Regions from separate parts of the Homo sapiens genome. Here regions 2, 3, 4 and 5 are each linked to region 1. Evidence: fine-mapped expression QTL. A gene starts in region 1. Each other region holds a variant in brackets. All regions are shown on one strand. Distances are from middle to middle.

Evidence for each region. PIP is the estimated chance that this variant, and not a neighbour inherited with it, causes the effect.
Region 2: its variant is the best candidate, but not a certain one, in a credible set for the expression of ATP1B1 in lung (TOPMed, PIP 0.86).
Region 3: its variant is the best candidate, but not a certain one, in a credible set for the expression of ATP1B1 in Th17 cells (Schmiedel 2018, PIP 0.58).
Region 4: its variant is the best candidate, but not a certain one, in a credible set for the expression of ATP1B1 in whole blood (INTERVAL, PIP 0.52).
Region 5: its variant is the best candidate, but not a certain one, in a credible set for the expression of ATP1B1 in whole blood (TOPMed, PIP 0.61).

Annotation. Positions count from the first base shown.
Region 1 is chr1:169,105,066-169,109,188 of GRCh38, reverse strand. ATP1B1 (ATPase Na+/K+ transporting subunit beta 1) reads right to left here and starts at 2,499. Exons shown (of 6, transcript NM_001677.4): 1 at 2,263-2,499. The coding sequence starts at 2,359. RefSeq lists enhancers at 1,790-2,362, 2,363-2,935, 2,724-3,018, 3,509-4,082 and a silencer at 2,532-3,451.
Region 2 is chr1:168,905,412-168,909,534 of GRCh38, reverse strand. It overlaps LINC00970 (long intergenic non-protein coding RNA 970), which reads left to right. Exons shown (of 5, transcript NR_104091.1): 4 at 1,565-1,676. Among named protein-coding and RNA genes, the nearest start is that of LINC00626, 120 kb to the right of the region's middle. The variant C/T (reference allele first, on the strand shown) is at 2,433.
Region 3 is chr1:169,003,672-169,007,794 of GRCh38, reverse strand. All of the region lies in intron 3 of LINC00970 (long intergenic non-protein coding RNA 970), which reads left to right. Among named protein-coding and RNA genes, the nearest start is that of LINC00970, 81 kb to the left of the region's middle. The variant G/A (reference allele first, on the strand shown) is at 2,316.
Region 4 is chr1:169,401,457-169,405,579 of GRCh38, reverse strand. All of the region lies in intron 4 of CCDC181 (coiled-coil domain containing 181), which reads left to right. Among named protein-coding and RNA genes, the nearest start is that of CCDC181, 24 kb to the left of the region's middle. The variant T/A (reference allele first, on the strand shown) is at 1,809.
Region 5 is chr1:169,454,776-169,458,898 of GRCh38, reverse strand. It overlaps a transcript of CCDC181 not described here. Among named protein-coding and RNA genes, the nearest start is that of SLC19A2, 29 kb to the left of the region's middle. The variant TAATA/A (reference allele first, on the strand shown) is at 2,469.

The sequences.
Region 1 (4,123 bases):
TCCAGGCCTAGCTGTAAATATAAAACCTACCAATGTCTGTATTAACCTAATAAAAAGGCAGAAGGCACAAAGTGATTTGCATGCTGTGATTTCTCCAGCAGGTGACAGGCGAGTCTCCTGCGTCCATCTTGGTGAAAATCTACCTATAAGCAAAATCGAGCCAAGGGCATCCTGCCCTCGCCCCAAGGGCATCCATGTTGGGCCCAGTGCTGGAAAAGGGGCATTTTCTCCGTAGGAGACGGTAATTGCTGCCGCCTTTTCTACCTAAGAGAGGCTCTGACAGTTTTTACACTGCCAGAAAGGGGCAGACATATTAGCACAAAACAAAAAGGGGATTTTTAGCCCAGCACCTGTACCGTGGAACATGGAAGGGAAGAGGAGGCAAGTACAGCAGTCCTGGGTCTACATTCACAAATCAGCATACTGATAGCTTGCTGGATAGGATATCAAGACATAAAAATTGACACACACGGTCTCTCTTTCTCTCTCTCATGGAGGTGCTGCCCATTAAATGTCGGCTTAAAAATGAGTCAGTCCATACTGCCTTACCCTCTAAAGCAAGTATTATTCTGAGAAGCATGAAACTGGAATGAGCAAAGATGCATATTATACTAAGGGGAAAAAGACAAGAAGGCAAATTTCACAATGTGCCTAGAGTCAATGCAGCCCCTGCCCCTGTGACGCAGCAGGGTCAGACCACCAGAGAAGGAAGCCCCAGCTAACCTGGGGAGAAGGGTGCCCATACCGCAGTGCACCTTCCAGGCCTCCCTCAAGTTACAAGGAGTTGCCAGGGAGCTGTTCATTCTACACACACCCCACAGTTCTTCAGGTTTTCCTTTCCACAGTAAAACACAGGAAACTACCTTTATGCCTGAGACACTATGACAATAATCTCAATGAAGAAGTCTCCCCAAAATAAAATATAAAACAAAAGCTAAAAGCCATTAAAGAACTACATTTTCCATGGCTCAGGGATACCTATGCTTCCCAGTAACACCTTGGAAAGACGCTTCACCTTGACTAACCTTGAAGTGTGATGCATTATTAACCCTTTAATTTTCAATCAAGAGAGACTCACAGGCTGCATTTTTTTTTCTTTACAAAAATTCATATATTCCAGCTTCTTCCATTTCAAAATGTCAGCTAAGCACTATTTCCCTGACTCATTCTCCTGCCGATTCCCACAGATCCTCCCAAGCAGGAACACCAATCGGCCTCTGTTCAGGACTCCCTGAATGACTGCAGTGGTGGTGCCAGTGGTGTTGGTGGTGATGGTCATGATGATGATGATGATGATGATGATGTTGGAGGAGGAGGGGGCAGTGATGCAGCAGGGGGAGTTCCCTCCCTCCTTCCCTCACGCAGTCACGACTCATAGATTCGCCTACAACTCTGCCCTTCAAAATGACCTTTTTTTTAAAAAAAAAAAAGTCACCTTTCCGGAGAGGCTGAAAACAAGAAATCTAATTTTCGATGGAAAAAAGTCTATCCAACCAAGCAACAGGCTGCACAAAATATTTTAAGATCAGCTGCTCTGCGTTTATATTCCCTTCACCATAATCAACCCAACCTACTGACTGATCCACAACTGTCTGTGTAGACCTTGAAAACAACCAGACTTTGCCAGGTTTCGGGCCAAAGCTAAGAATCGGAGTCCTGAAATGGAGCTTATTGAACCATTTCTGGGTGGTGATGACTCCAGGGGAGGTCATGGAGGGAAATCCTTAGCCATCGCTGTGAAATACTACAGTGTGGATGGATTCCTCTCCACCCTTCTCTTTCCTCTCTTTTGAGATACGTATTTAGACTAGAAGAAAGATGCTGTAACACACAACCTCGTCTGCATTAGATCCCATCACCTCACGAGGTTCTCTCAAGACCCCAGATCTCATTTTTTTTTTAAGGACTCAGGACACGGGAGAGACAAATGTAGTCTCGCAGAGCCTGACTATTCCCAGGAGTAAAAGGCTCAACCGATGCACGGTAGGAAAGACTGCAAATTACCAAGCCAAGATCGCTACGATATGCATAACCTTCCGCCTGTCGTGTTCCAGCCCCGACCCTGCGCCCCACTCTGGGGACACCGCATTCCGCACAGGACTGCAAGCCCAGGCCGGCGCGACCCAGCAGCGTCCACCACCCTCGCCCCCGCCACCCCGGCCAGCGCGGTGGGTGCGGAACCGGCCGCGGACCCTGCGCAGGGGATGCGCCGCCCGGGAAAGATCAGACGCGGCGGCCGGGAGCTGCGGACCCCGTACTTACACCAACTGCCACCGGTCCTGCCCAGAAACTCCTTCTTCTCTGAGTTCCAGATGAATTTCTTCCAGCTGCCCTCCTCCTTGGCTTTCCCGCGGGCCATGGCGATGGCGGGTCAGCAGCTGCCGCGGTCCGGAGGGTGGGTGGCTGCGGCGCGCGCCCTGGCGTCCTCTGCGCCGCTCGGCTTCTCCGGCCTGGCTCTCTGCAGGCAGGACGCGCCGCTGCCGCTGCGGCTCTCGGAGTGCGAGACGCGCGGCGGAGGAGCCAAGGCAGGAGCAGGAGGAGGGGGAGGCGGCGGCGGCGGCGGCGGCGGGGCGGGGGCGGAGGGAGGGACGGCGCAGGCTGCGCGGCTCCGAGCCCCGCACCTATTGGTGGGCGCGCAGCCGCTCGCGGGCTTTCTTTGGTCCGCCGAGCGCTCCTCTAGCCCTTGGGGGGTCGGGGGCTCCGCGAACCCGTAGCTGCCGCTCCCGCTGCCACTGGGGACGTGTGCTGGGCCCCCGCCTCCCCTGACCTCTGCAGAGACAGGCCCGGGGTAGGAGAGTCAGAGAGGGAAGGACGGACAAGCGGACTGCGGGGCGCCACCGGCACTCCCGCCAGGAGCCGAGGAATTGGCTGCGCCCGCCCTACCTTTACTATATACCGCGCCCCGGCGGCCGTGCGCCCCGCCCTCTAGCGGCCCGGTGGCCAATCGCCGGCGCCAGGGGCAGGGACTCGGCCCGAGAGGGCGGGTTCGGGGCCGGCACAAAGGAGCCGCCGGGGCTAGAGGGGCCGCTTGGATCGCTGGGCGCGGGGCGTTGGGCGCGGGGCGAGGAGGAGGCGGGGGCGGCGGTGAGGGACGCGCAGGCAGCGCCGCGCAGCCCCCTCCCAGCTCCCGGCTGGGCGTGAACCGCCCCTTCCGTGGCTGGGGGATCCGCACCTGGGTCGCCCGGAGCCTCGAGGACCCCAGCCCGGCAGTCCTGGCCCAGCCTCCACGCCTCTGCCTGCCCGCCCGCGCTTTCGGCCTCCCTGGGCTGTGGGTCCACCCCTCCTGGGCGCTGGCGGGGTGGGGGAAGGTCACTCCGGGACGCCGGACTGGCGAGGACTCTGCCCAGCTCCGCCCCGCCTCCCGCTCCTGCACCTGCCGCCCCCTCGCACTCCCCGCCACTGCGGTTGCAGTTCCGGCCCTTCCCTCTTCTTTGCAGGCCAGCCCAGCCGGCAGCCCCGGTTCCTGACTGCCCGGCTGTGCCCCTTGTGGGCGGCCTGAACCACCTCGAGCAGGACAATTGCCAAACCCACCCAGGGCGGTAGCCCGCAGTGAGTTGTCCCGTAGAAACCAATTGAGACTCAGGCCAGTCTAGACCCCAGGCAACAATATCTGCACGTGACCCAGCCACCGAGGACTTTCTTGGTGCCCGGTCGGCGGCGGGTATTCTCATTGGCATGCTTTTATGCCCCCTTGGGGGTATCGATCCCTTTGTTCTGCTGTAAAATTCTTGGAGCCAAAGGACCTTTGGGAAAACCTAGCGCATAGGGCAAGATGTTGCAGACCTGGGGCATAGAGTACCCCTTCCCACTCTTTGTCCGCTGTTGCTGGAAAGCCAAACTCTTGGTTTCATCCCTCTCCTATGAGCCCCCAAGCAGCTTTATACATCCCTCTGAGGACAGTGACACAGCAGAAAACACCGGGATGCTTCTGCTTCCACTGCAGAGAAGCCCTATCCCCAGGGGCCATCATGGCCCATCTTGACGTCCCAGCCCCATATCAGAGAATTCCCCAATACCAGGATGCTTGTCCTTATCCTGGCCACCCTTCTGTCCCCAAGGTCAACCTCGCTGGCATAAAGACAAGCCCGAACTGATTAAGAATGAGCATTTTTCTAATCCTTCT
Region 2 (4,123 bases), 200 kb after region 1:
TCACCCACTTATCAAGCTTTTTCACCTTTCCGATTTGCTTCAAATGCCAAATGACTATAGAATGGTCGGCGTTGTGTTCTTCAGCAACTTCTCCTGTAGTTTTAAGAGGATCAGCTTCGATAAATACTCTCAGCTGGTCATTGTCAACTTTTGATGGCTGGCCACTCTGCTTCGTATCCTCAAGGCTCTCCTCTCCTTTGCAAAACTTCTCGAATACCACTCCACTGTACATTCGTTAGCAATTCCTGGGCCAAATGCGTCGTTGGTTTTGCGAATTGTTTCCGCTGCTTTACACTAATTTTGAACTCAAATAAGAAAATCACTTGAATTTGTTTTTGGTCTAACATCATTTCCATAGTCTAAAATAAATATAAAATAAACAGCAAGTAGTATGTCATTAGCAAAAACTAATAACAATAAAATAAAATAAAATAAAGTGAGAAATGTGCATTAAAATGATGTATAATACAACCACATTTATTTAAGAATGTATTCCAGTATCAAATGGCAAATTCCAACAATGCAAAAACCACAATTATGTTTGCACCAACCTAATAGCAGCAAATGTTAACAACATCCAACATTTTTTGAGCACTACTATATCTGTGTGTTTATGTATGTAAGTATGGATGTATATGTATGTATGTATGCATGTGTGTGTTCTCATATCCTCAAAGCAGGCCTGAGAGAAAAGTATTACTAATATTCATGTTTATAGATGAATAAAGTAACACAGAAATGTTCAATTACCTGTCCAAGTTCATATAAACTGTAAGCGACAGAGCAAATATCTGAACCTCTGAGTTTACCATTGTGATCTCTTTGTTTTCTATTGCTTCTTTGCTAGTATTACTGTTTTAAAAAGGAGTGGAAAGTCTATGGTCAGAAGTACTAATTGCATTAGGTTCTGTATAAGGCAGTTTAGTAACCTAGCCATATTGCCACACAAAACTTTTCCCACTCTAGTGTGACTTTTAGCACCTATCTTTATATAATCTAGATAGCTTAGAAGTTCTCTGTTTAATTATTACAGCTATTTCAGCAAGCCACTGAATTGAAAGGGAATAAAGCCACTAAAAGATATAAAGCTGTCTTTGGCTCAGATTTACCTCACTGGTTACAATCTCAGCATGACCATAGGTGATGTTATGCTGCTATGTTTATGGTGCTCACTTTGCGTAAATTTTATCAAAACATACTTCTCTTAGTGGAAACCAATCTGTATGCAGGAATACCTTTTGAGTTAGGAAAAGTTTGCATTAATGAAATATTGAGAAAGAGAAAGGAAAAAAGAAATGGTTGGGGAAGTTGTATTTCACTGAGGGAAAACACATGTTTATTTTTAACACACCCAATATTAGCATTGGTTAGTGCTGTGGAATCCATCTATTTCTGTTTCTTCTGAAAGTGACCTCCCATTGGAGTCAGTCACTTTATCCCTAGACATAAGGATTCTCACTTAGTCAAATGGAAACAAGAATTATCAGCAGAGAACATTTACCATGTGTGTGAAGTGGGTAAACAGCTGGTCAGTCTCCAACTAGGGCTTTTGTTTCCCTTTTAGAGCTGAAACCACAGGAAGAGGCCAATATGGACTTCTCTACTACTTTATTTCCCCTGAGCCTGGTCAGCTTCTTCCAAGGAGATTACTGGGAGGAAGCTTCTAGGATTTCTGGGTATGTGAAGTTGGGGATTGAGTGGGGAGGGAGGAAAGGAAGAAAGGGCAGAGAAGTTCAAAATGTGACAGTGCGAGTACCTTTGAGGGTAGCTATTCTTAACACAAGTGTCCACATCAGGCAGTATAGATTCAAGGACCATGGCTGGGCAGAAACTGTGGGCTTGGTGAAGGATGCACAGGAGGAGTGTGAGGCTAATACTAACCACAGTATTGATCAGATTGAACTTAAATCATTTTGCTAGTTATACATCAACACATCTGCCAGATGCAGCCTCACAGCCCCTGCAAGCGGGGTCCTTATGCATCAAAGCTCTTAACAGAGATATAGATGAATACTTCCTCTAAGACAACTCTGAGAAAACTGTGGCAAGGGAAGGAGGCAATCGCAGAGAAAATGCTAAATATCTTTCTTTAGGCAGCCAGCAGGAACTCTGGAGCTCTTGATCTGTCCAATGAAAGCTCTAATGTGGCACTTCTGCCCAGAGGCCTCAGCACACGTGGGTCATCATAGCCTTGAGAATAGATGTGACTGTGCCATAGGAGAATAAAAAAAGCTAAATTCAAAAGAATGTCATCAAACCAGTTTGATGAATAATGTTTGCCTATTGCTTGTATGCTTTTGAAAGAAGCATAAAATCAAAGGCCAAATTGTTAGGACAGTACACAAAGCAGGTAGCTGGTTAGCGTGGCTTTCACGTAATTCCAAAGCTAAGCTCCTATGTAAAAAGAACAAGTAGGCTGTTGAAAAGACTTT[C/T]GCAATTTATTCAGAAAGGATCTCATGTTCTAAGGCAACGACCACATTTTCCTTGTTAGAGGTGAGCAAATACCCAAGTTCATGGCCATGAGATCAAATGTAATTAATAAAATGTTAACCCACTTCTGACATTAAATCCCCAGATATTGAGTGTGAGAAGGAAGTAAAAAAGCCACTTCACTGAGAGGCTGTGGCTTATAAAACCAAGAAGAAAAACCACCAGCATTTTTGCTTTTTGCTTTAAATTTCTATAACAATGAATAGTCTATAATTTTTATGGAAGCTGACAGTTTTGAGTATCACAAAGTTAAAAAGAACGAGTATTAGTATTCTCATTTGTAGGTGAAAAAACTGGGACTCAGGCTCAAATTCTCAGAATGAGTGCTACATCTCCTTTTATCCCCTCATATCAAGGCACATCCTATCATGTTATGATTGCTTCAAACTCTGCTTAATATGGGAAGAAGCAGACAGGATCTGCCTAAATTACATCCAGGCTGTCTCCTGGTAGGCTCCCAGATCGTTTGCTGTTATCCTAAAAAGGAGAGGCACAGGTAGTCATAATTCTGGTTTGATGACATGCAGAGGATTGATGATTATACAATAACTAAGAAATGAGCAACGACTGGCACTGTGTTAAGAACTTTCTGTGCATTACCTTCATAATAATCCATGAAATTGGCATTATCATAATACTTTTTACAGATGAGGGCACTGAGGCACAGATGTGAAGTAACTTGCTCAAGGTTAGACGGTAAGTTCAAACCCATCCAGGTCCATACTGGTGGGCCTTAATAGTTAATACTTTGTCATTAACTTTGTTGTCAATGCCATTCCTATGCATTTGAATGCATTTAGAGGAGCAATTCATATAGTAGATAGTAGCACAGACTCAGAACCAGGAGGCCTGGGTTCTAGTCCCAATTCTGCTACTGATTAGTATGGTATCCAGATCTCATGTTCCTTATCTGAAAAAATAAACCTTTATGCTACATAGTTTCTATACGTTCCTGAAAATCTAATGGGGTATATTCGATTAAAGTTTCTGCCTAGTTACTCAAGGGTCTTCATTTTCTAACTAAGGTTTGAAAATATTCTCCTGGCTTCTGTAATTCTGCAAGGCTGTTTTAGTTGCTTTTGAAAAACTAAATTTCTAAGAACTATTTTATTGAGTGCTTGAGCCTTTCAGAGCTCCTAAAAAGGTTCGTAACTCATCTTCTCACATTGCTGCTTGTGTTGACCTTGGCATCCACTGTCCACAAACTCCTCAAGGCCATCCTGAAAGGTGAGTGGGAGGTGGCAGATCATTGTAGCAGGCACTGAGAGAGCCACCACCAAACACCTTCCCTTTGGTTGCTTTCAGCAGCTTAAAAATCACTTTCACAGACTGTAGGGATTCATTTATTCCTCACAACACACTTTGAGGTAGGCGCTAGCATTCTCATTTTATAGATAAAGAAATTAAAGCCCAGACAACCATCTATCTTGTCTAAGCTCCAAACATTTATAAATAAAGACCTGAGTTCTAGCCTACATCTCCTGCCTCTAAAGCTAAATATATTTCCATTGCTTCTTTTAAGGAAGGCTGCATAGGAATTGGCAGGGCCCTATAGTGGCAGGTTTGACTGCTCCACTCTTTATCATCCATGTGTTTTGGGTAAGCCAACTAATTTCTATGCCTCTCTTCTGTG
Region 3 (4,123 bases), 100 kb after region 1:
AAGAAGAGAACTTGCTCTATGGGGCTGTATTAAGTTCCTGGAGGACTACAATCAATTTTGGTTATCACACTTTAACATGTAGTAGAATCAGTAGGATAAATCCTCAACCAAGATATAAGCATCAGGAATTTTTTAGTCACAAGTGACAAAAACCTGACCCAAGCAGGCTACACAAGTTTTATAAAAAGGTATTATTGGCTCGAGAAATTGAAGAGTTCCTGGGGTAACTATTGCTGCAGGTATGTACTGATTCAGAACCCAAATGATATCACCAGGATACATTTCTCCACTCTGTTTCCACTTGTGTGAGTCTTATCCTCAGGTTCAAGTTTCACACAGGTTCTCTGACAGTTTTCCCAAATTTCATATCCTCACACCATCAAGCACAGAAGAGGACAGTCTGTGTCCCATTATTTACAGCAAAAGTGGCAACATTCACTCATATTGGATTGGCTTAAGTCATATGTTTCTCCTCCTCCCTCTGAACCATCATTAGAGCCATGGGAAAAAAGATTTACTGATTGACTTAATTAAGAAGCCATTTGGGGTTCACTCCTGGAGCTGAGAGTGGGTTCCATGTAAACCAAACTGTATAGGTATTTCCCAAAGGAAAATATGGGTATGCTGGGGTAAAAACCAACACATATCCAATTCATCATGTGGATAAATTTCAAAACATATGTGGTGGTCACCTTCACAGAATTTTAAAGTGGAAACCAATCTCAAATCATGTAGTCTAGTCTTCTTAGTGGAGAGTCTAGTAAAAAGTCAAGGGGAAAATAATAGATTAAAATATTCCGTGATGTTGTATGGGAAAGGAAGTAAACTGCTCTGGCCCCCAAAGACTAAGCTAGAGTCTAAGCTAGGAAGTTAGAGGCAGACAGAATCTAAGGAAAAAAATGTTTTGATTACCATAAAAGTCTAATCCTGGAATAGAATTCTTCGGGCAATAGTTTATTTTCTGTTTTTGGAGTTGTTCAAATGAGGCTAAACATAAACATTTAGGGATGTAGTAGAAGAAAGTCATGAGTTGCATGGGGATGAGAGCCGACAACTGCGAAGCTTCATTCCAGTTTTAGCATCCTATAAGAAAACACTATATGAATGATCATAGCAGCATTATTCCCAATGGTCAAAAAGTGGAAATAAATCAAATGGCTACCGTTGAATGAACTGCTAAATAAAATGTAGTATCTTCATACAATAGAATATAATTCAGAAATACAGATACGTGGTACAACATGAATGAACCTTGAAAACATTACACTAAGTGAAAGAAGCCAACCATAAAAGACTGCATGTTGTATGATTCCAGTCCTATGAAATGTCCATGAGAGGCAAAATCAATAGAGGCAGAAAGTAGAGTAGTGGTTGCCTAGGCCTGAGGGTTGGGGATGACTGCTAATGGGTATGGAGTTTCTTTTTGGGATGATGAAAATGTTCTAAATTGGTTGTGGTGATGATTGCATAATTCTGTGAATTTACTAAAAACTATTGAATTGTACACTTTAAATGGGTGAATGGCATTGTATGTGAATTAATATCAATAAAGTTGTTATTGAATAAAATGAATACTATGAAATAAATTTTAAGGGGAGAGCAGAGCTTGGATATACGGTTGTACTGTTTTGACAGAGGACTGAAAGGAGAAAAAGCCCAGAAGTAACATATATTACCTAGGGAGGAGGGCTGATTAAAATACAACTCTGTTCAGCTCTGTGGGGAGGTCAGGGCAGAGAGCCGGCAGCGAGAGGACAGTCGGCATTTCGTGTGGGTGAGGATGCTGTAAGCATGTCCTGAAATGGACAAAGAAGCCTTGTCTTGGAACACTGGGGAGAGTCTAAGGCAGACTCCCTCTTCTTCAAGATCTGCCTTTGCCCAGCTCTGCACATGGACATGTCTTTCTAGCTAGACCCCTTAGTCCCTCTAACCCCACACTCATATCCAAGCAGCTAAAGGCATAATTTTTCCTCCCAGCTCTTTCATCTCTTATTAAAATGTTTTCTTTCCTGGTGCCTGAATCATTTGACATAATGTTTTTCTCCTCTCTTTGTTTTGTGCTTACCAGTGTACTTTCTCTCTCGTTGGCATAGGCTATTTCTTGTTTTTTTTTATTATTAATAAGACAACTTTGACTTTATATTTCATTTATTATTCCCTTGGGTCCTTTATGACCTTATCATAAGGTTTCTTTTGTATAAATGTGAAGATTCTCTAATATACTTAAAATGAGGGAAACCAGTGTTTCAAGTACTCACATTAAAAAGTCCTATACAACAAAAATAAGGACAAACCAACCTGACATTTATTTGAAC[G/A]ATTTATACAATAAAGAACTTGAGTGCCTCCTTGAAAGACTTTTTTTCCCTCTGTATTCTCATTGATTCTTTATGACAATAGGGGTACAGGTTTATGTCTTATCCAGGGTTTATTCAATGTATCCTCTAAGTTTTCACCCAACTAAAACTAACATTGGATTTCTCATTCATTAATCCACTCAATTATTCATTTATTTATCCACTCATGCAACACTTGTCACCTTGCTAGGTGCTGGGAATATAATGATGAGTATAAGAGCATGTCTCTGGCTTTCATGACACATACAATCTAACAAGAGAGACAGATGTTGAGCAAATACTTACACAAATTTGACAAATAATTATATGATTAAATTTATGATGTATTATAAGAAGAGAAATATAAGGTATTGTTATAATATATAGTAGTGCCTTTTCTTTCTTGCCTTTCTTTCTACACTTGCTAAAGGAGTTCCTGAAAAATGTTGGCTACAAAGAGAAATGTGGAAAAGAGAAGAGTCATTCATTCAACATTTCAACAAATATACATTGTTTTAAGCTTGGAGAATCTTCATCAATTCTAATTTTGTGAACATATCTACAGTGAGAGGAATTTCAAATTACTCAATATTTGAAAAGACATTATAATTTAAGTCATGCAAGTAAATGGTTTAGTTAACTAAAGTAGAGGTGGCCCTAATCTAATGACTAGAACATTCACTTGTAACAAGCAACATTAAAAAAAGCTTTGGCAAGTTTTGATTTAAACATAACGTAAGTAAGGAAAAATGTGGAGAGTATGTGTATATGGCTTGATGATTTTTTACAAACTGAACACACCTATATAACCAGAACCCAAGTCAAGGGGCAGGATATTCCCAGACCTCCAGAAGCTCCACCCATGCCCTCTTTCAGTCACTAAATTCAGAGTACAAGAGGACTAATATTTTTGAGCCCTTGCTGTGTGCTAGGCACAATGCAAAGTCTTTTATAGATGCTGTGGTGTGTTAAGAGTGGCTTTTTCCCCTCATATGTATATAAATTATTCCCTGGGAATCTAGTTGACATTAGTCATTTAATTAGCAAATTCTTCAGATAGCTAGAAAGTGTCCCTTGGCTCAGCATAGATAGAACTTTTGCAGTTTCACATTCCTGGAGAATTTCCACAAGTGCTGGAAATTTCCATGATGCCAGGGGCCATGGAGCAATGAACAGAAACAGGGAAATGGCAGTTTCCCTGGATGGCTGTGTGCCAGGCCCTCAAGTGCAGGGTGCCAGGACTTCTTCTCTTCTTGCCCTGCATCTCCTCCTTCCCCCAGGGGAAACCCCTCAGCCTGTGTGCCCCTCCCCAGTCCTCTCACCTCAAAATCCTCCTCAAGGGTAAGGAGGACGGAGTTTTTAATTTCTCTGAATAGTGAAGATCACTGTAGGGTGAGCACTTCTTGGACTACTGTAATCACTCAAGGGTCTTGAGAAATTTCCATAGTGTATGAGGCACTATTCCTTTGAGTTCTGGATGCTTGTGGCAGAGGACTGCAATGGGGTTTTAGATAGAGTCTGCCTGGGAAGAAAAAAATCTGAAGGACCCTGGTAGATAGGAACAGAAAAAGCCACCCATTGCCCAAAGGAGGTTTGGCCTTTATGGCCAGAAACAATACGGGTCTTAGGAATTTGGTGAGAGCTCAGAATTTCTGACCAAGGCTTCTGTAAAACCATGCAATCTTGCTGCTTCTGAGTCGTGATTTTCCTCCACTATCTATTCTCTGGTGTTATCTGCCATGATCGTGCCAAATCTTCTTTCTCTCTTCAAACCCCAGCCCCAACTTACT
Region 4 (4,123 bases), 300 kb before region 1:
CATTTATTAAATAGGGAATCCTTCCGCCGTTTCTTGTTTTTGTGAGGTTTGTCAAAGATCAGATGGTTGTAGATATGTGGTATTATTTCTGAGGGTTCTGTTCTGTTCCACTGGTCTATATCTCTGTTTTGGTACCAGTACCATGCTGTTTTGGTTACTGTATCCTTGCAGTGTAGTTTGCAGTCAGGTAGCGTGATGCCTCCAGCTTTGTTCTTTTTGCTTAGGATTGTCTTGGCAATGTGGGCTCTTTTTTGGTTCCATATGAACTTTAAAGTAGTTTTTTCCATTCTGTGAAGAAAGTCATTGATAGCTTGATGGGGATGGCATTGAATCTATAAATTACCTTGGGCAGTATGGCCATTTTCACGATATTGATTCTTACTATCTATGAACATGGAATGTTCTTCCATTTGTTTGTGTCCTCTTATTTCATTGAGCAGTGGTTTGTAGTTCTCCTTGAAGAGGTCCTTCACATCCCTTGTAAGTTGGATTCCTAGGTATTTTATTCCCTTTGAAGCAATTATGAATGAGAATTCACTCATGATTTGGCTCTCTGTTTGTCTGTTATTGGTGTATAAGAATGCTTGTGATTTTTGTACATTGATTTTGTATCCTGAGATTTTGCTGAAGTTGCTTATCAGCTTAAGGAGATTTTGGGCTGAGACGATGGGGTTTCTAAATATACAATCATGTCATCTGCAAACAGGGACAATTTGACTTCCTCTTTTCCTAATTGAATACACTTTATTTCTTTCTCCTGCCTGATTGCCCTGTCCAGAACTTCCAACACTATGTTGAATAGGAGTGGCGAGAGAGGGCATCCCTGTCTTGTGCCAGTTTTCAAAGGGAATGCTTCCAGTTTTGCCCATTCACTATGATATTGGCTGTGGATTTCTCATAAATAGCTCTCATTATTTTGAGATACGTCCCATCAATACTTAGTTCATTGAGAGTTTTTAGGATAAAGGGCTGTTGAATTTTTTCGAAGGCCTTTTCTGCATCTATTGAGATAATCATGTGGTTTTTGTCTTTGGTTCTGTTTAGATGATGGATTACGTTTATTGATTTGCATACGTTGAACCAGGCTTGCATCCCAGGGATGAAGCCCACTTGATCATGGTGGATAAGCTTTTTGATGTGCTGCTGGATTTGGTTTGCCAGTATTTTATTGAGGATTTTTGCATCAATGTTCATCAGGGGTATTGGTCAAAAATTCTCTTTTTTTGTTGTGTCTCTGCCAGGCTTTGGTATCAGGATGATGCTGGCCTTATAACGAGTTAGGGAGGATTCCCTCTTTTTCTGATGATTGGAATAGTTTCAGAAGGAATGGTACCTGCTCCTCTTTGTACCTCTGGTAGAATTTGGCTGTGAATCTGTCTGGTCCTGGACTTTTTTTGGTTGGTAGGCTATTAATTATTGCCTCAATTTCAGAGCCTGTTATTCGTCTATTCAGGGATTCAGCTTCTTCCTGGTTTAGTCTTGGGAGGGTGTATGTGTCCAGGAGTTTATCCATTTCTTCTAGATTTTCTAGTTTATTTGCATAGAGGTGTTTATAGTATTCTCTGATGGTAGTTTGTATTTCTGTGGGATCGGTGGTGATATCCCCTTTATCAATTTTTATTGCATCTATTTGATTCTTCTCTCTTTTCTTCTTTATTAGTCTTGGTAGCAGTCTATCGATTTTGCTGATCTTTTCAAAAAACCAGCTCCTGGATTCATTGATTTTTTTGAAGGGTTTCTTTTGTCTCTATCTCCTTCAGTTCTGCTCTGATCTTAGTTATTTCTTGCCTTCTGCTAGCTTTTGAATG[T/A]GTTTGCTCTTGTTTCTCCAGTTCTTTTAATTGTGATGTTAGGGTATCAATTTTAGATCTTTCCTGCTTTCTCTTGTGGGCATTTAGTGCTATAAATTTCACTCTACACACTGCTTTAAATGTGTCCCAGAGATTCTTGTATGTTGTGTCTTTGTTCTCATTGGTTTCAAAGAACATCTTTATTTCTGCCTTCATTTCGTTATCTACCCAGTAGTCATTCAGGAGCAGGTTGTTCAGTTTCCACGTAGTTGAGCGGTTTTGAGTGAGTTTCTTAAGCCTGCGTTCTAGTTTGATTGCACTGTGGTCTGAGAGACAGTTTGTAATAATTTCTGTGTTTTTACATTTGCTGAGGAGTGCTTTACTTTCACCTATGTGGTCAATTTTGGAATAAGTGTGATGTGGTGCTGAGAAGAATGTATATTCTGTTGATTTGGGGTGGAGTTCTGTAGATGTCTATTAGGTCCGCTTGGTGCAGAGCTGCGTTCAATTCCTTGATATCCTTGTTAATTTTCTGTCTCGTTGATCTGTCTAATGTTAACAGTGGGGTGTTAAAGTCTCCCATTATTAATGTGTGGGAGTCTAAGTTTCTCTGTAGGTCTCTAAGGGTTTGCTTTATGAATCTGGGTGCTCCTGTATTGGGTGCATATATATTTAGGATAGTTCGCTCTTCTCATTGGATTGATACCCCATCATTATATAATGGCCTTTTTTGTATCTTTTGATCTTTGTTGGTTTAAAGTCTGGTTTTTTCAGAGACTAGGATTGCAACCCCTGCTTTTTTTTTTTTTTGTTTGTTTTCCATTTGCTTGGTAGATCTTCCTCCTTCCCTTTATTTTGAGCCTATGTGTGTCTCTGCACATGGGTATCCTGAATACAGCACACTGATGGGTCTTGACTCTTTATCCAATGTGCCAGTCTGTGTCTTTTAATTGGAGCATTTAGCCCATTTACATCTAAAGTTAATATTGTTATGTGTGTATTTGGTCCTGTCATTATGATGTTAGCTGGTTATTTTGCTCGTTAGTTGATGCAGTTTCTTCCTAGCCTTGATGGTCTTTACATTTTGGCATGTTTTTGTGGTGGCTGGTACTGGTTGTTCCTTTCCATGTTTAGTGCTTCCTTCAGGAGCTCTTTTAGGGCAGGCCTGGTGGTGACAAAATCTCTCAGCATTTGCTTGTCTGTAAGGTATTTTATTTCTCCTTCACTTATGAAGCTTAGTTTGGCTGGATATGAAATTCTGGGTTGAAAATTCTTTTCTTTAAGAATGTTGAATATTGGCCCCCACTCTCTTCTGGCTTGTAGAGTTTCTGCCGAGAGATCCGCTGTTAGTCTGATGGGCTTCCCTTTGTGGGTAACCCAACCTTTCTCTCTGGCTGCCCTTAACATTTTTTCCTTCATTTCAACTTTAGTAAATCTGACAATTATGTGTCTTGGAGTTGCTCTTCTTGAGGAGTATCTTTGTGGTATTTGCTGTATTTCCTGAATTTGAATGTTGGCCTGCCTTGCTAGCTTGGGGAAGTTCTCCTGGATCATATCCAGAAGAGTGTTTTCTAACTTGGTTCCGTTCTCCCCGTCACTTTCAGGTACACCAATCAGACGTAGATTTGGTCTTTTCACATAGTCCCATATTTCTTGGAGGCTTTGTTCATTTCTTTTTACCCTTTTTTCTCTAAACTTCTCTTCTCACTTCATTTCATTCATTTGATCTTCAATCACAGATACCCTTTCTTCCACTTGATCAAATTGGCTACTGAAGGTTGTGCATGCATCGCGTAGTTCTTGTGCCATGGTTTTCAGCTCCATCGGGTCATTTAAGGTCTCCTCTACACTGTTTATTCTAGTTAGCCATTCGTCTAATCTTTTTTTCAAGGTTTTTAGCTTCTTTGCGATGGGTTCAAACATCCTTCTTTAGCTCGGAGAAGTTTGTTATTACCGATTGTCTGAAGCCTTCTTCTCTCAACTCATCAAAGTCATTCTCCATCCAGCTTTGTTCCATTGCTGGGGAAGAGCTGCATTCCTTTGGAGAAGAGGCACTCTGATTTTTAGAATTTTCAGCTTTTCTACTCTGGTTTCTCCCCATCTTTGTGGTCTTATCTACCTTTGGTCTTTGACGATGGTGATGTACAGATGGGGTTTTGGTGTGGATGTCCTTTCTGTTTGTTAGTTTTCCTTCTAACAGTCAGGACCCTCACCTGTGGGTCTATTGGAGTTTGCTGGAGGTCCACTCCAGACCCTGGTTTGCTTGGGTCTCACCAGCAGAGGCTGCAGAACAGCAAATATTGCAGAACAGCAAATGTTGCTGCCTGATCCTTCCT
Region 5 (4,123 bases), 350 kb before region 1:
TCTCAGATCAAATAAATATGTAAAATATTTACTATTAGAAATTAATTATTAAAAATTAAAGACTATTAAAAATCACCAAAGACATAAATAAATAAGCAACTGCAAGTAAGAGTCAGCAGAACAACAAACAGATTAAGAGTCTAATGATTTCAGATATTGGAATTATAAGAGATATACAGTATAAAATAAATATGTATAAAATTTAGATACAAAAGATGAAATCACAGAAATGAGCAAGTACCAAGAAAGTAACAATATGACAAGACTGACTTGAAAAAGAACCTAAAGAGATATTTTAGAATTTAAAAATAGAAATGTTGGGAAGCTTCCAAATTGGTGAACACATCTCTGTGCCAGTAGAGTGCCTACCCCAACTCCATGGGGACAGAAGCTCCTGCACTCAGGACCCTTCTAGATTTCCCCTGTGTGCCTTTTTATCAAATTGTTCATTTATATCATTTATAAGAAACTGGTAAACATTTAAAAAAACAGAAATGTTGAAGTTAAAATTCCATGGATAAGATCTCATAAATTGCTGGTGGGAATGTAAATTGGTACAATCCCTTTGAATAACATTTTGGCATTATCCTTTAAAGTCAAATATATGCATTTCCTATGACCGAGCAATTCACCTCCTATTTATATTTATAGGTTGGTGCAAAAGTAATTGCGATTTTGGCCATACTTTTAAATGGCAAAAAAAACAAAACAAAAAAAAAAAAACAAAAATTACTTTTGCCCCAGCCTTTGGTTGGAGCAGCACTTTTCAATATGGTAGCCACTAGACACTTGTGACTAGTGAGTACTTAAAATATGACTATACAGGAATGAAAATGAATAAGCCAGAACCACAAGCAATAATTTTAGTCAATCTTAAATAAAACAGAAAGACACAAAAGAACTAAGACACAAAAGAATCTATCAATACAATTTGTTCAAACTATTGTCTAAATATTTATATATAGGTGACAAAAATATAAAACAATTATCATAAAAGTCTAGCAAATGTTTATTTCTAGAAAGATGAAGAAAGGTATACTTAAGAAGGGGCACACAGATTTCTATGGTACTTGTGTTGTTGACTTGGAATATTGTACATGTATATTTGCTATATAATTACATATTTATGTTCTTTTTTGTATATTTATTAAATTTAGCACTAAAACACTTTAAAAAGCTCAATGGCTAGGTTAAACAGCAGATTAAATACAGTTAAAGATAAAATTAGTGAAGTGGAAAGTAAAACTGAAGAAATTACCTAGTATAGTAATTCCTCTATGTCATGGATAGGTTCTTAGAAACCGCATCTTTAAGTGAAATGATATACTGTATGCTATAGGAACTTAACTCTTGTTTGTATCAATTAGCCTATGGTAAAATTGGTTTGATTATACAGTACATCATTTTTCTTAAAGTTGCAGTTTCCAAGAACCTGTTAATGATGTTAAGTGAGGACTTACTGTATGTAGCAATGAGATAGGAGATTAAAAAATATAAGAAGAGGTTAAGATATAAGGTGAACAGAATGAGAAGATCTTATAGCCTCAGAAGGAATGAATAGATAGAATGGAGGAGAAGCAATATTCTATGTTAAGAATGAGAATTTAGCAAAACTGACGAAAAACATGAATCCACAGATACAGGAATCAGAGTGTATCCCAAGCCAGATATCTAAAAACTACTAGACACATAATAGTTAAATTACAATTAACTTAGGACAAGGAGAAGATCATAAAAGCAGCCAGAGAGAAAAGACATCATATATAAAAAAAGAATCAGTTAGCTAACAGCCATTTCTCAAGAGCAACAATGGAAGCTAGAAGGCAACAGTAATGAAATTACTGAAGGAAAATAACTTCCTACCTAAAATTGTGTACCCAGAAGAGTGATCTGTTAAGAACTAGAATAAAAACAGTCACAGATTTTAAAAATGGAAAAAGTCCATGCCAGCAATGGATTATCCAGGAGAAATGAACAAGACCCTAATAGGAAGGTCTCACATACAAGAAGTGAGGATGAGATAAAAGGATAAGCATTTAGATAAATCCAGATGTCTGAGTCCAGTTTCTTTTGTTTATAACAGAATACCTAAAACTGGGTAATTTATAAAGAAAAGGGATTTATTTCTTACCATTCTGGAGGCTGGGAAGTCCAAGGTTGACTGCATGTGGTGAAAGCCTTCTTTCCAGTGGGAACTCTACAGAGTTCAGAGTTCAGAGTTCCAAGGCAGTGTGGGGTATCACATGGCAAGAGGACTGAGCATGATAATGTGCTAACTTAGATCTCTCTTTTATTATAAAGCCACCATTTCCCCTCCCATGATAACTCATTAATCTGTTAATGGACACATTTTTTCATGAGTGCAGGCCCCATCTCTCAATAACTGCCACATTGGGGATTAAGTTTCAATATGGGTTTTGGAGGGAACATTGAAACCACAGCACCAAACAGTCATTAGCTTTACTAAT[TAATA/A]ATGATTATTTATTCTGTGGTTTATATTTTAAAATACTATACATGAAGAGTATATAAATTGGGCTTATGCGAGGTACTTAGATACAGCAACAATGCAACCTGGCTTTGTGAAGGGTTGCACAGTGCATCTGTGCTCCCCACCACAAAACACTGCCAGGAAACTAAAGATGATGATCACATTAGCTAAGTGAGAGTTAAGGAGGAGCTCTTGAATAGTTCGGCAAGGTTCCTAGCCACTTCCTACAAAAATTGAAACTAAGCCAAAAAGGGAGGAAGAAAGGATAAATCTTCAGCCAAAAAACTGCAAAGGAAAATGGGGAGCAAAAGGCAAACAGGCTGAAATGGCCATCTAAGAAACTAAAGACAACTTTCCTGCAGAAAGTAGAGAAACTAAAACTGAGGAGGGTCTAGTCTTTAATTAAGGAGAGAAAAAAAATCAAATCTGATTAATATAGTTACCAAGTCTTATGGTTCCTGTATCTTCTTCATTATAATCTGGATAAATATTTTTATTACCTATGTTGTAAATAAAAGATTGTTTAAATAGCTCTAAAAACACATATTTTAGAAGGAAGTTGTGTGTGTGCACAAGTGTGCATGTGTGAGTGCACACCTGCATGTATGTACTTTCTTTAAAAAAAGAAATGATATGCCTGTAATTTTTCTGTACAACCTAAAATGTGAAGATGTCAACATAAGGGAGGATTTGACAGTCTTGGGTGTTAACTGTATTGGCTGCTAGGAAGGGCAGTTTTTGTATCTTATGAATTTAACAAAATGGCCATTAGCAGTCACAATTATCCACTAATATCTCTGAATATTTTAAATTACTTAAAGCCTATCTCCATGTTCTTGCTTTAAAAACAAATAGAATTGCTCCTAAAGAAAACTGCTCCCTCATTTTGGCTCTCCATATATCAGAATTGTTAAAGTTTGGAAATTTTGAAGTATAGCAGTATGATACTAAATTGTTAATTAGTGGGGCTTTAAACCTAACAGTTTATCAATATTTGAAATTACTAGGGCCTGATATATTTTCTTAAGGAAAGTTTGCCTCTAGCTTTAAGTTGGAAAGTCACTACAATTACTGTTTAGAAAAGAATGGAATAATTAATACTTTAGAAAACTTACATTAGGACTTGTTTACAAATTATCCATAATGGCTATGTACTGATTGAATAAAATCTCAATTATGAAAGAAAAAATTTAAATGAAAACATACGAGCCTTGAAAAAACCCAAATATTCATTTTCCTGTCAATAGACAGGAAAATTAAAACAAAACATAAATGCAAATTAAATATATTACTAATTTAACTCTCATTTAGTCAATAGACAGGAAAATGAATAGAAAAAATTTGGTATTTTGTGATAGCGGAATGTTATACAGTGGCAAAAAACAAATGAATATAATTGCATACAGTAGCATTTATAAATTTTAGAGAATAATTAAACTGTTGAGAAAAAAACAAGTAGCCGTCTATGTTGTATTGTACCATTTCAAAAATAAAGCTCAAAATCAAGTATGTAAATCAAACAACATATTGGTTAAGAATAACACACATAATGGATAAAACTTTTTCTTTAAAGGCATGTAATAATATACTTAAAATTTGTGATAGTGGTTACCTTTTTTGGTAAGACAGGGAGAT